Regions from separate parts of the Homo sapiens genome. Here regions 1 and 3 are each reported to be linked to region 2. The links are microRNA targets in miRTarBase. Many come from high-throughput screens and were not tested one by one. Region 2 holds a microRNA gene; each other region holds the end of a gene's coding sequence.
What was found. Region 2 holds the annotated microRNA hsa-miR-4708-3p (AGCAAGGCGGCAUCUCUCUGAU, at 1,333-1,354, opposite strand). A microRNA usually pairs through its seed, bases 2 to 8, with sites in the 3' UTR of a target mRNA and lowers its output. Matches are read on the target gene's strand: a 7mer-m8 pairs with bases 2 to 8, a 7mer-A1 pairs with bases 2 to 7 and ends in A, and an 8mer does both.

Region 1 (4,064 bases), not on the chromosome of region 2:
CTCAGTTCTCCTCACAGCCACGTTGGGGCCTCCTGCTCCCCAGGTTCACTGCGAGGCTCAGACTCGGAGGACACGCATTGAGGGACTGTGGCAGGATCTGGCTGTCTCCACTGTCTTTGCTCCAGGCCACCTCCACCCTGGCTGGTGGGGAGGGCTTGCTCTTGAGCCAGCTCTCTAGTGTGAGTTGGGAGTGTGGGCAGCTGGACTACAGTTAGAGGGAACATGGAGCAGGTGCCCAGGGTGCAGCCTCCCAAGGCAGCACGTGCCCATGCCAGAATTCCTGCCCTCAGGGAGCTTGCCTTCCAGAGGGCAGGTGGACCACAAGGAGAACAAGCTGGCTTGGGGTGGGGGTGAGTGCTGCAGAAGCCAGGATGAGCAGAGGCTGGCTGGGTCAGGGACGGTCCCCCGAGGTGGACATGCAGGAGGTGAGCAGAGGCACATTCCCCAGTGCAAATCCCAGCCCTCCCCTGTTGGTTCCACCAGGTGGTTCACACACTAGTGACGCCTTGGCAAGTCTGAGATTTGGTTTCCTTGTACAGAAATGGGGTGACAGTCCCTCAGAAACAAGGGAGTGGTTCTGCAGGTGGGAGCTGCCATGACTGCTGCGGTTTTGAAGCATCTGTGTGCCCCCCACCGGGCAGTGGGACATCTCGGCTGAGCCTCTCCCCTTCTCCATGCAGATCTGGGACATGAGCGATGATGAGACCATCTGAGATGGCCCCGCTGTGGGGCTGACTTCTCCCCGGCCGCCTGCTGAGGAGCTCTCCATCGCCAGAGCAGGACTGCTGACCCCAGGCCTGGTGATTCTGGGCCCCTCCTCCATACCCCGAGGTCTGGGATTCCCCCCTCTGCTGCCCAGGAGTGGCCAGTGTTCGGCGTTGCTCGGGATTCAAGATACCACCAGTTCAGAGCTAAATAATAACCTTGGCCTTGGCCTTGCTATTGACCTGGGACTTGGTCCTCCATGCAGTTTTTATTTCTTGTCACAGTGACTGATAGCCATCCCCCAGGATCCTTTCCCCTTGGCCCTGAGGGGGTGACCCAACACAGACCAAATGGGGAAATGAGCAACCAGCTCCTGCCCAGAGCCACTGCGGGAGGTGGCACCCTCATCCCCGGAATGTGCTGCCCACCGCACCGCAGGCTCCTCCTGTGGGGGCCCTGGGCATGGGTGAGGGTGGGACCCCGTGAGCGCACTGCACCCTGGCCCTGGTGGAGCGGGAGGAGGAGGAGAGCCGAGCTGGGTACGAGACTAAAGGGCCCACATGACCCAGTGACGCCAGATTTCCACCAAGGACTGAGTGAGCTGCTCAGACATGGCTTTCTGCCTCCCAGCCTGTCCTCCACTGTGGGCATAGCATCTGTGCCTGCCTGCCTGCTTGAGGGAGAGGAGTTTCTGCTGCTGCCTTGAGCTGGGGGGAAGAGCCCAGGGGCAGATCCTGGCAGCTGCCTGGATGGGGCTCCTCCCTGCCCTTATGAGCAGGCCAGGCCCAGAAAGGCCGAGCCTGGGCTGCCTTCCTGCCCCAGCCGAGGGAGGGGTCAGACGGCTCTACCATGGGTAACTCAGGCAAGAGCTGGTTTTCCTCTTTATTCTGGGTGTGTGCAGCTGTGAGGCCCCAACCCAGGAGAGGCCATGGCCTAGGTACCTGTGACCACCCTGCCCCCGTGTAGAGGGCATCGTCTTTCCTGCTATTTTATTCTTTCAGCTTTTGTCTTAGGCCCAGAATCAAAGTGAAAATTGAGTCGAGCTGACCCTTACAACAGTAGGATTTAGTAGGGTAGATTTCAAATGAGGCTTCGCTTCTCCCAAAGTAGCCAGTCCAAGTTCCAGTGGCTGTCGTTCAGCTCATGGGAGCTTCATGGGGACACAGCCGGCACAGGTGCAGGGCCCGAGTCCGCCCACCCAGCCTGGCGCTGAAACTGCACACGTACACTATGTGGTTTAAGAGCACTTTATTATTGTTCTTAAGGCTACTTTTAAGTACAAAAAAAGATGGCCTGCCAAACCTTTTTTTTTCTTCTTCCAGGAAAAACAGGCCACAGAGAATGGTATATTACAGATTTACACACATGAAGAGAAGGTCAGAGCGCACTGCAGGCAGCGCGGCTCTGGGAAGAACTTCACGGAGCCCCTTCTTAGAGCAGGGAGGGGGCTTTCTCAGTGAAATGTTTGGTTTTCTGCTGCCTCCTCTGCCCCAGGCCCCCCTCCAGGGTACTGCCTATCCCAGATAGGTCAGTGCACCAGGGACCCGGCCGCCAGCACCGCCGACCCCTCCCAGAGTGACGCCCTTGTTCACTGACAAAGAGACCTGTCCCAGGAGTGTCCTCCACCGAGCCGGTCAGCTGTGGGTGGTTTTCCTGTTACGACGCTCAGTAGCCTGTAGCAATAACAAACTCGTGGCTATGAATGCAGATGCAGTGTTCTCATAGAATAACTGTTCCTGCACTTTTACAGACAAATCTACGACAAAAAAAAAGATCAACTTTTTTTTTCCGAACAACAAAAAAAATGAATGATTACAATAGGAAAGGGAAAAATTAAATAGCTACATATCATTAACAAATTAATGTTCTTCAAAAAATACCTACAAATTTCTCTGTACATTCTTTACGCACAGCGTAACGATGGTCTCAAAATCACCCATATAGAAAAGTGTTCTCAACGATTTTTCCTACAGAAAATATAGGGGCCTGAATGCCAAAGCTTGGAAGCCCAGTACAGTGGGAGTGAAATGTGTGCGGGGCAAGGAGAAGGGCTTTTCTTTCCTCCACTTTTCAAAGGCCTGCAGCCACTCTGTGACTACAAGAGCCAGTCCTCCGACCTTTTCACCCAGTGCCAATTTCCAAAATTCAACAGCTAAAAACTGTAAAACCGGGGGTCATACGGTGTGCAGAGTCCACAAAGCCTTGCAGGTGAGGTGACCACGCCCACGTCACCTGGTCAGGTGCCATCGTCGTGAGCCTCTGGTGGGCCAGGTGGGACACAGCACACCCCAGGGGGAGGGGATAGAAACGCTCATTGACCAAAAAGGAGCAGCTGTGACCTCCACAGCTGTGTCTGTCATGCTTGCTTCATCTAATTTCTAGTTAGTAGCTATTAATATAGCAAATAATAAATGCAGTAATAACAGTATAAAGTCAGAGGAATGTATACTGCCTTGGCCCCAGCGTACGAGGAAGCGTATAAAACACCATATCACAGATTGTCTGTCAGTAATCTGCTGTTCAGCCAAGAGAGTTCAAAGGGAGCAGTTTCTGCATGTAGGGAAGTTGGAAGACACAAACCCCACCTCCCCTGGGAGCTTGTAACAAAGCAGACAGGGATGCAAAAATAAATGATGTCAGCCTGCAGCCAAACTCCAGCATCCCACACCGCAGCTGACCCACTGCTCATCGCGAGGGCCTGCCAGGAGCTGGCCTCCCGCACTACTTGTGAGTAAAGTGAATATCAAATACCAATCTTAGAGTACAACTGTACCAGCAGTAAGTATATCTAGGACTGTAACTGACAAAAATAAACTAATTCTGAAAAGAAGATAGTAAGTATTAAGGTTTTTGTTTACTGTCTATATAATTAATAGAAACCAGCTATTTTTTCTCCATTAAAACATGCATCACGTTTAAAGCACTATGGAATCCTCCAACCTCAGCTCTAGTCTAACAAACTGCAGTGTTCAGAGAAGATAAAATGCCCGTGATTGGTAGAGTCTGCAGTCCAGTTGCAAGCACCTGAAATCTAGAGAGAGAAAGACCTATAACCTGTATGAGACTTCCCCTTCCAAAGCTGTATTGTCTACATTAAAAAAAACAAAAACAGTAACAACAACAAACACACAAATGGTCAGAAATGTCATCCTTAAACCCTTTGTTTTTCAGCAGTTTGCCCTCAGAGTTCTGGCATAACACATAAAGTTGTCAGGCAACTTTAGTCCTCCTCCAATAGTGCAAATCAGACACGACAGTTCTCTTCAAGTATACACACGCACACACATGGACCGAACCAAACACGCCGTGGAAGCTGAGCCACACACACCCCGGTCTCAAGAAGCAAAGGAAAAAGCACA
Region 2 (4,066 bases):
GGAGGCTGAGTCAGGAGGACTGCTTGAGGCCAGGAGTTTGAGACCAGCTAGGCAACATGGTAAGACCCCCTCTCTATTATATATTAAAAATAATTTTTAAAAAATGCCTAAGTCACACCCCAGACCAATTAATATCAGAATCTGTGGGAACAGGGCTCAGCTATCAGTCTATTTTAATCTCCAGATGATTCCAGTGTGTAGCCACTGGCCTCATCTTAGCTCGGCTGAGCTGGTGAGACCCAGTAATCTGTATTCTAACAAGCCTTCTGCAAATCTCAGGACCTTTGGTGTGAACCATCCCATCATCCTCCCAATGTCCAGGCCTCTGATTTCACTTCTCTGCCCAGTGGGTGTGACTTGAAAGCAAGAGAGGAGGTGCAACAACCCTTAGTTTCTGTAAGAAGGTACAAGGAGACCAGTTCTGTATATCAAATCCTGGTTTATTCTAGCCAGACCTGTCTTAGGGACAATGATGGTCTTTCAGCCTAAATGCTTGCTTCTCAGGAAGCAGGTGAGCCAATGAAGGGCCCCACTCTCTCCAAGTGGAGACTATAGCATTTGCCTAAAATACCCCTTCTCTCCAGTCCTAACTGTCCTGGAAGCTTCTCAGAGGCCAAATATGTAAACAAGTTCCAAACCAACACATCTGCTTTTCATTTCCTGCGGAATGCTAAAACGAGTCTTTTAAGGTTGCTTAAAATATGTTCTCTCCTCCCGCCCCACCCCCCAGGGCATTTGCTGTGCGTCCTCAGACCACCTCAGCTCCTCCTTCCCTACACCTGGGACTCTTCTGCGCAGACTTGGCTTCAAACAAGGCTCACGGTTCTTCCTGGCATTTGCTTTTTTGGCTTAGCGAGTGCACATTCAATATCTTTTTCTTCTTTTTCTTGAAAGCACTGTCTTCAGTCTCCTCACTTGTCCCTTTCTCCTCTGGCAAGCGTAATGCTATCAACATTTGAAAGTGGCCTGATTCCCTGGTGTCTGGTAAATGGCCTTGCTGGTGAACTTCTTTAGGAGAACTGCAAAGAAACTAGAGCAGGGGCTAAAGAGAGCTGCTCTCTTGGGGCTCAGATGCCCCTCCTGGGGCCCCACCTCACACTAGGTGGGTTTCCTTCCTAAATTTGAGCAACGACTCTGTGTGACCTTAGCCACCCTTAACTTTGCTCTGCTTCTGTTTAGCATCTGTTAAGGAGTGACCTTTGCCACCAATTAATGAGGGTGAGGCCCCATTCAGTTGCAAAGAACGTGGAATTGTAAACAAACTTGCAAGTGGAAAGACTAGTTCCAGGGGAAATGTAGGTAAGAAAGGTGCTCCCGTATTCTCCTTTTAGTATCAGAGAGATGCCGCCTTGCTCCTCCTGTTCAAGGAGCAAGGCGGCATCTCTCTCCTAAATATGCTGTTGTGTCTCATACCTCAGCTTCTCAGGGCCCTGCCAAGAGCGGGTAGGTAACATAACAACAGCTGTTACTGCCCCAATGTATCCTCCCTCCAAATGTCAACAACATACACTTTGGAGTGGCCTCTTTATGTTAAGGCCTTGAGCTTTAAGACTCAGCTCTGGCCTTTAAGAATCGTATGTTCCCGTTGAAGAGACAGGATGTGTGTAAAGATAGCAGCTAGAGACCATGCCCAACAGATAACAAACATTAAGGGAATACATAAGTATTGAACAAATATATATGGAGCACTAATTATGTTTTGTTGTAAGCTCTGAGGCTAAAGTGTTATAGGACTTTCTCCTTAGTTCAACTAAAAGCCGGATTCTTGTCACACAGCCATGAGAGATTAGGCTTGCAGACACTTTGAAGGGTGAGAAGAATGGAACTTATTGGGCAAAAAGGAAAATAAATGGAAACAGGGACTCTCAGCAAAGTGAGAGTCCTGCTTGCTGGTTTTTCCTGCCTCACTGATTGAATCCCATGTACTACCCTGGATCAGGAGAGGCCAGGCTCCTTCCTGCTGCAAAGGGTGTGAACTTCTGCAGCTCCACCCTGTTCTCCCAGTGCGCAGGCCAGTCGGAGTTTCTCAGGGGACCCCTTTACACTTGGCTGTCTCAAAAAACAGGGAGCAAAACAGATAAAACCCCTGGCTTTATGGATCTTATGTTCCTTATATATATATATGTATAAGGAACACACGTATATATGTGTATATATGTATATATATATTTTTAGGTTCTGGAATAAATGTGCACAACATGCAGCTTTGTTACATAGGTATATACATGCCATGGTGGTTTGCTGCACCCATCAACCCGTCATCTACATTAGGTATTTCTCCTAATGCTATCCCTCCCCTATTCCCCCACCCCCTAGATCTTATGTTCTAATGAGACAAGACATACTTTGAGAGGCCAAGATGAGTGTCAGCAAATAAATATGTATAATACACCAGCTTCTGGGAAGTACTTTGAAGGAAAATGAAGCAGATTAAGGAGGGTAGAGTGACATGGTTAAGAGAATGTGGTTTTTTAGATGGGAGATCAGAGAAGACCTCTCTGGTAAGGAGACATTTGAGTCAAAATCTGAAGAAGGAGGGAGTGAGTCATCTGAGTCTGTGAAGAATTTTCTAAGCAAGGCGAGCAGCAAGCACGAAGGCTCTCAGGAAGGAGTGTGCTTGGTGAGTTCTAAGAACAAGCAGGCCAGTGTAGCTGGAAAGTAGTGAGCAGGAGACTGTGGGCAGGAGAGGACATGAGAGAGGTGACAGAGTGGATCACTGAGGACCCTGCAAGTGGTGGTAAGGACTTTAGATTTTGTTTTGAAGCCATTGGAGGGCTTTGAGTAGAGCAGTGACATGATTGGACTCACACCTTGGAAGGATCACTCTGAGCATGGACTCCAAGAGTGCACAAGGAGAAGTGTGAGGCCAGTGAGAAGGGTGCTGCAATAATCCGGGATGAGATGAAGATGATGGTGGCTTGGACCAGAGAGAAGAGACTAAGGGTGGTGAGATGAGATTAGATTCTGATATATAATGAAGGTAGAGTAGACAAGATAGATGAGATATAGGGTTATGATTTATGACATAAAGAGAGAAATCAGGAATGATTCCAGTGTTTTTGGCCGATACTCAAGGTTTTAAATTTATAGCAGGGATGGGCTGCTTCTGGTTAAGATAATAAGGGAAAGATTAATGAAAGACCCAAGATTTGAGCTGCACTTTGAAAAACTAGTAGGATTTTGTGACTTATAAAAAGTCTCAAGGGCTTATTTTGAGACCATTTTATCTCCTGGAGTGCAGCCTCCTACCCTAGTTCCACTTCTTTCAGTTATATCAACCAGGAGCTCTGGGATGCGGGACTCAGCCAGCCCAAGGAAGGTGAATCTGGATTCTTTAGGCCAATCATGAAAATTTTCTACTCTTGCCAGTAACTGGTTTAGAAATGGGCTGGTTTAAGAATGGGAATGTACTGGCCTGGGCATGGTGGCTCATACCTGTAATTCCCATACTTTGAGAAGCCAAGATGAGAGGATTGCTTGAGTCCAGGAGTTTGAGACCAGCCTGGACAATATAGTGAGCCCTCCTCTCTACAAAAATAAAAAATAAAATTAGCAGGGCACGGTGGTGCGTACCTTTAGTCCCAACTACTCAGGAGGCTGAGGTGGGAGAATTGCTTGAGCTCAGGTGTTTGACACTGCAGTGAGCCATGATTGAGCCACTGCACTCTAGCCTGGACCACAGAGTGAGACCCTGTCTCAAAATAAATAAAATAAAATAAAATAAAATAAATAAGGCATATGCTATAGTTCTGGACAATGGAACATAAAAGGAAACTGCAGAAGGGACGTCTGGGAAAATCTCTAAGTCTTCAAAAGGAAGCAAGGTACTCTGGCCTTGAGATGTTGTTAAGGACATAGAGCTTGAACTGCTATTGCCATCTTGCAAACATAAAGAGGAAGGTAAAGGCAACAGCTGCAGAGTGGCAGAGAGAAAAGGTGGACAAGCATGGTTCCTTGAGAACATTGCTGAGCTATGGAATTACCCAACCCTGGAACTGCACAACTTCTGAATTTTTTTTTTTTTTTTTTGAGACAGAGTCTTGCTCTGTCGCCCAGGCTGGAGTGC
Region 3 (4,064 bases), not on the chromosome of region 2:
ACTTCAGTTTGGTCGACCGTGCAAGGGGTACAGTCATAGCACTTACCTACCTCAAAAGGTGCTGCGAAACGTTAAGTGCAGGCACAGCGATGCCCTGGGCCACGTGCTGGGTTCCATGGGCCCCAGCGAGGGAGACTATGAGGGCGGTGGGGCCTTGAAAGCGAAGGATGCTCTGAGTGGCTGGGCCAGACTCTCGCTCCCCAACCCCCAGACCACTGCACCTAGCCATCATCCACGGGCAGACCAGTGTCATTGAGCAGATAGTCTATGTCATCCACCACGCCCAGGACCTCGGCGTTGTCAACCTCACCAACCACCTGCACCAGGTGCGGGGGCGCCTACTGGGGAGGTGGGAGGGGTTGGAAGGCAAGTGGGTCTCGGGCCTGGCTCACCCTGCTTTCATCCCCAGACGCCCCTGCACCTGGCGGTGATCACGGGGCAGACGAGTGTGGTGAGCTTTCTGCTGCGGGTAGGTGCAGACCCAGCTCTGCTGGATCGGCATGGAGACTCAGCCATGCATCTGGCGCTGCGGGCAGGCGCTGGTGCTCCTGAGCTGCTGCGTGCACTGCTTCAGAGTGGAGCTCCTGCTGTGCCCCAGCTGTTGCATATGCCTGACTTTGAGGGTGAGCTCCCCATCTCACCTGACTAAGGGGGCAGGCGGGGACCAGGGAGGGTATCTGGCCAGTGCCCAGAATGGACTATGAGGTGTCGAGATTGAATGGTCAGGGCTGGTCCAGGGGCTGCCTTAAGGGTCACAGCTGCAGGTTGAGCATCCTGCATCCTTAGGACTGTATCCAGTACACCTGGCAGTCCGAGCCCGAAGCCCTGAGTGCCTGGATCTGCTGGTGGACAGTGGGGCTGAAGTGGAGGCCACAGAGCGGCAGGGGGGACGAACAGCCTTGCATCTAGCCACAGAGATGGAGGAGCTGGGGTTGGTCACCCATCTGGTCACCAAGGTGGGACTGAGGATTGTGGAAGGAGTGGGGCCAAGGGTGGTGGAGGGGCCAAAGATGGTGAAGGGGGGGGCTGGCCAAGGGGACCATGCTGTGGTGTCAACTCTCGCTGCTCGCACCCCCAGCTCCGGGCCAACGTGAACGCTCGCACCTTTGCGGGAAACACACCCCTGCACCTGGCAGCTGGACTGGGGTACCCGACCCTCACCCGCCTCCTTCTGAAGGCTGGTCAGTCTCACCCTCAGGGGCACTTGAACAGGGTGGGGGGAAGGGAGAGAGGTGCCTCCCAGTCCCCCGACTTTGCAGTCCTTAATGTAGGCCCCCACCATACCGCCCCATGACGGCCTCCCTCTCCCAGGTGCTGACATCCATGCTGAAAACGAGGAGCCCCTGTGCCCACTGCCTTCACCCCCTACCTCTGATAGCGACTCGGACTCTGAAGGGCCTGAGAAGGACACCCGAAGCAGCTTCCGGGGCCACACGCCTCTTGACCTCACTTGCAGCACCAAGGTGAGGCCAGCCCGGGACTAGAAGTGCTCTGAGTGACGGGGTCCAGAGTATCTGGACTTAAAGACACAGGCTTAAGGACGAGGTGGGAGGTAGTCAGAACTGCGGCTGTCTCCCCAGGTGAAGACCTTGCTGCTAAATGCTGCTCAGAACACCATGGAGCCACCCCTGACCCCGCCCAGCCCAGCAGGTGAGAAGCATCAGGCATCCCCAGCCCGACTCCTCTGACTCCTCACAGAGGTCTCTTCTCCTTCAGGACCTCTGAAGGAGGCCTCCCTTTCTCTACCCTCAGCCCCGTCCATCACCCCTCATGGTCCTGTCTGTCGCTTACCTTGGGAGAAAGGCAGTGTTCAGGTGTCCATGTCCCCACCCAACTCTGGAGGTAAATGACATGTCTGTATGTGTGTCCCCCTAAGGGCCGGGACTGTCACTTGGTGATACAGCTCTGCAGAACCTGGAGCAGCTGCTAGACGGGCCAGAAGCCCAGGGCAGCTGGGCAGAGCTGGCAGAGCGTCTGGGGCTGCGCAGCCTGGTAGACACGTACCGACAGACAACCTCACCCAGTGGCAGCCTCCTGCGCAGCTACGAGGTGGGTTGGCCTGTGCCCTGCCCCCTCCCCAGCCTCCTTTCCCGATCTGAGTCCAGGTGCCTCCTTGGCCCCAGGGCTCCCGAGCACATGCCCTAACCATGACTCAGACCTCATTCCTCTGTCTTCTCAGCTGGCTGGCGGGGACCTGGCAGGTCTACTGGAGGCCCTGTCTGACATGGGCCTAGAGGAGGGAGTGAGGCTGCTGAGGGGTCCAGAAACCCGAGACAAGCTGCCCAGCACAGGTAAAGGGGCCTCCCTGGAAGGTGGATCTGGACCTGGAGGGCCGGAGGCCTGAGGCTTTGACTATCCCATTCCTGTCCCCATTTACCCCCAGCAGAGGTGAAGGAAGACAGTGCGTACGGGAGCCAGTCAGTGGAGCAGGAGGCAGAGAAGCTGGGCCCACCCCCTGAGCCACCAGGAGGGCTCTGCCACGGGCACCCCCAGCCTCAGGTGCACTGACCTGCTGCCTGCCCCCAGCCCCCTTCCCGGACCCCCTGTACAGCGTCCCCACCTATTTCAAATCTTATTTAACACCCCACACCCACCCCTCAGTTGGGACAAATAAAGGATTCTCATGGGAAGGGGAGGACCCCTCCTTCCCAACTTATGGCAGCCCCTGATGTGACTCTTGTCCCTGGAACCAGCTACCCACCCTGCCCACATGCCAGGCATGGTGAGAAGAGAAGGAGGAGGCCCAGCCAGCAAGTCCAGAGCAGTTTTAATGGGGGTGGAGGCTGTACAAAGGGCAAGGCCCACTGAAGCGGGGGAAAGCCAGGCCGTGCTGCCCCCGGCCCAGGTATGGGGCCTTGGCATGGACGCCCTTCCTCCACCTCCAGCAAGAGAAAGAGTAAGCCCTTGGGGAGGAAGGAGGGGAAACCAGCTCAGCCCCAAATCCTGGTCTCTGTCCAAGCCAGGCCCCAGGACAGAGGGGGACTGATGGTGTCAGGGTGGGGGTGGTCTCAGCAGAAAGCAGAAACGGCATCAGGCCTCTCCCACACAAAAAAAAAGCATCAAAAGTTCAGGGGCGCTAGCCCCTCCCGCCCCCGCCCACCCTGTACGAAAAAGTGCAAAACATTATCACAAAAAGGGGCTCTCGGAGGTGCCCCTAGCCTAGGCTCCTGAGGCCCAGGCCCCAGCCCTGCCCTGCCCCGGACACCGCGTCCGGCGCGGTCGGGCCCTAGGCCGGGAGGCCCTCGTGGGTGGCCCGAGGCCGGCCCGGGCTCAGGCAGGGCCATGTCATCCTTCAGGTGCCCAGCAGGCACTCCCCACCCTAAACCTCATCTCAGGGCTTCCGCCGCCCACTGCCTGCCCCTGGCCGAGGCTCTGAGCTGTGACGCTGAGCCCGGGGCTGGCTGGAGGGTTTGGGCTGCAGGGAGGGACTGGAGTGAGAAGGAGGGAGTCCATCCTCTGTGCTCCCGGCCTGGGCCAGTGCTGCCTCCACTGCATCCAGCTCCTCACTGCCTGCCTTCAGCTTGACCCGAAGCAGCGCTGCATAGGTGCTGTAGCGGGATTTCTGAGGCAGAGGGGCAGGGGCTGTGAGAGCCTCTTCTCTGCCTTCTGCCCACCCCACCATCTGGACCAGGGAGGGCCGCCAGCAGGGCAGAAGATGGCAGGTGCCCACCCAGGACTGTGAGATGGTCCCATGCGGGCTGGTGCCCCCTCTGGGCTCTCCTGGGACCATCATCTATAACCTAATGTGTCTTGAGCCTTTACTAGAGCTGGGGAAATGGCACGCTTGAGACATGCCTCACCTCGAGACCCCAGTGGATGTCAAATGTTATCCTTGTTGCACAGAGGAGGAAACTGAGGCTTAGGTTAAGCAACCTGCCCAAGGACCTCCGGCCGGTTCCACTGTTAGAGTTCATGCCCTTCACCCTAGTATGGGCCTGCGTGTGTGGACAGAGGGGCAGACAGGGAGGCTCACCTCAAACTCCAGGTAGGCCTCCTTCTGCCGCTGCTCTTCAGCCTCCTTGCCCCGGCCCTTCTTGCCCAGCTGGGCGGCCCGGTGCTCCCGC

Region 1: miRTarBase lists ATG7 as a target of hsa-miR-4708-3p. Seed matches in the 3' UTR shown: 7mer-m8 at 934-940 and 8mer at 2,905-2,912.
Region 3: the mRNA of PSD is a reported target of hsa-miR-4708-3p. Seed matches in the 3' UTR shown: 7mer-m8 at 2,795-2,801.

Annotation. Positions count from the first base shown.
Region 1 is chr3:11,554,131-11,558,194 of GRCh38, forward strand. ATG7 (autophagy related 7) reads left to right here. Exons shown (of 21, transcript NM_001349232.2): 21 at 681-3,535. The coding sequence ends at 713. VGLL4 (vestigial like family member 4) reads right to left here. Exons shown (of 5, transcript NM_001128219.3): 5 at 1,939-4,064. Among named protein-coding and RNA genes, the nearest start is that of VGLL4, 88 kb to the right of the region's middle.
Region 2 is chr14:65,333,791-65,337,856 of GRCh38, forward strand. It overlaps MIR4708 (microRNA 4708), which reads right to left and starts at 1,393; the gene lies at 1,327-1,393. RefSeq lists enhancers at 2,332-2,431, 2,492-2,641.
Region 3 is chr10:102,399,869-102,403,932 of GRCh38, forward strand. PSD (pleckstrin and Sec7 domain containing) reads right to left here. Exons shown (of 17, transcript NM_002779.5): 16 at 3,974-4,064; 17 at 2,751-3,562. The coding sequence ends at 3,332. It overlaps NFKB2 (nuclear factor kappa B subunit 2), which reads left to right. Exons shown (of 23, transcript NM_001322934.2): 15 at 212-326; 16 at 410-623; 17 at 787-956; 18 at 1,079-1,181; 19 at 1,312-1,463; 20 at 1,581-1,650; 21 at 1,877-2,049; 22 at 2,180-2,291; 23 at 2,384-2,656. The coding sequence ends at 2,508. Among named protein-coding and RNA genes, the nearest start is that of NFKB2, 6.2 kb to the left of the region's middle. RefSeq lists an enhancer at 1,007-1,703 and a silencer at 3,944-4,064.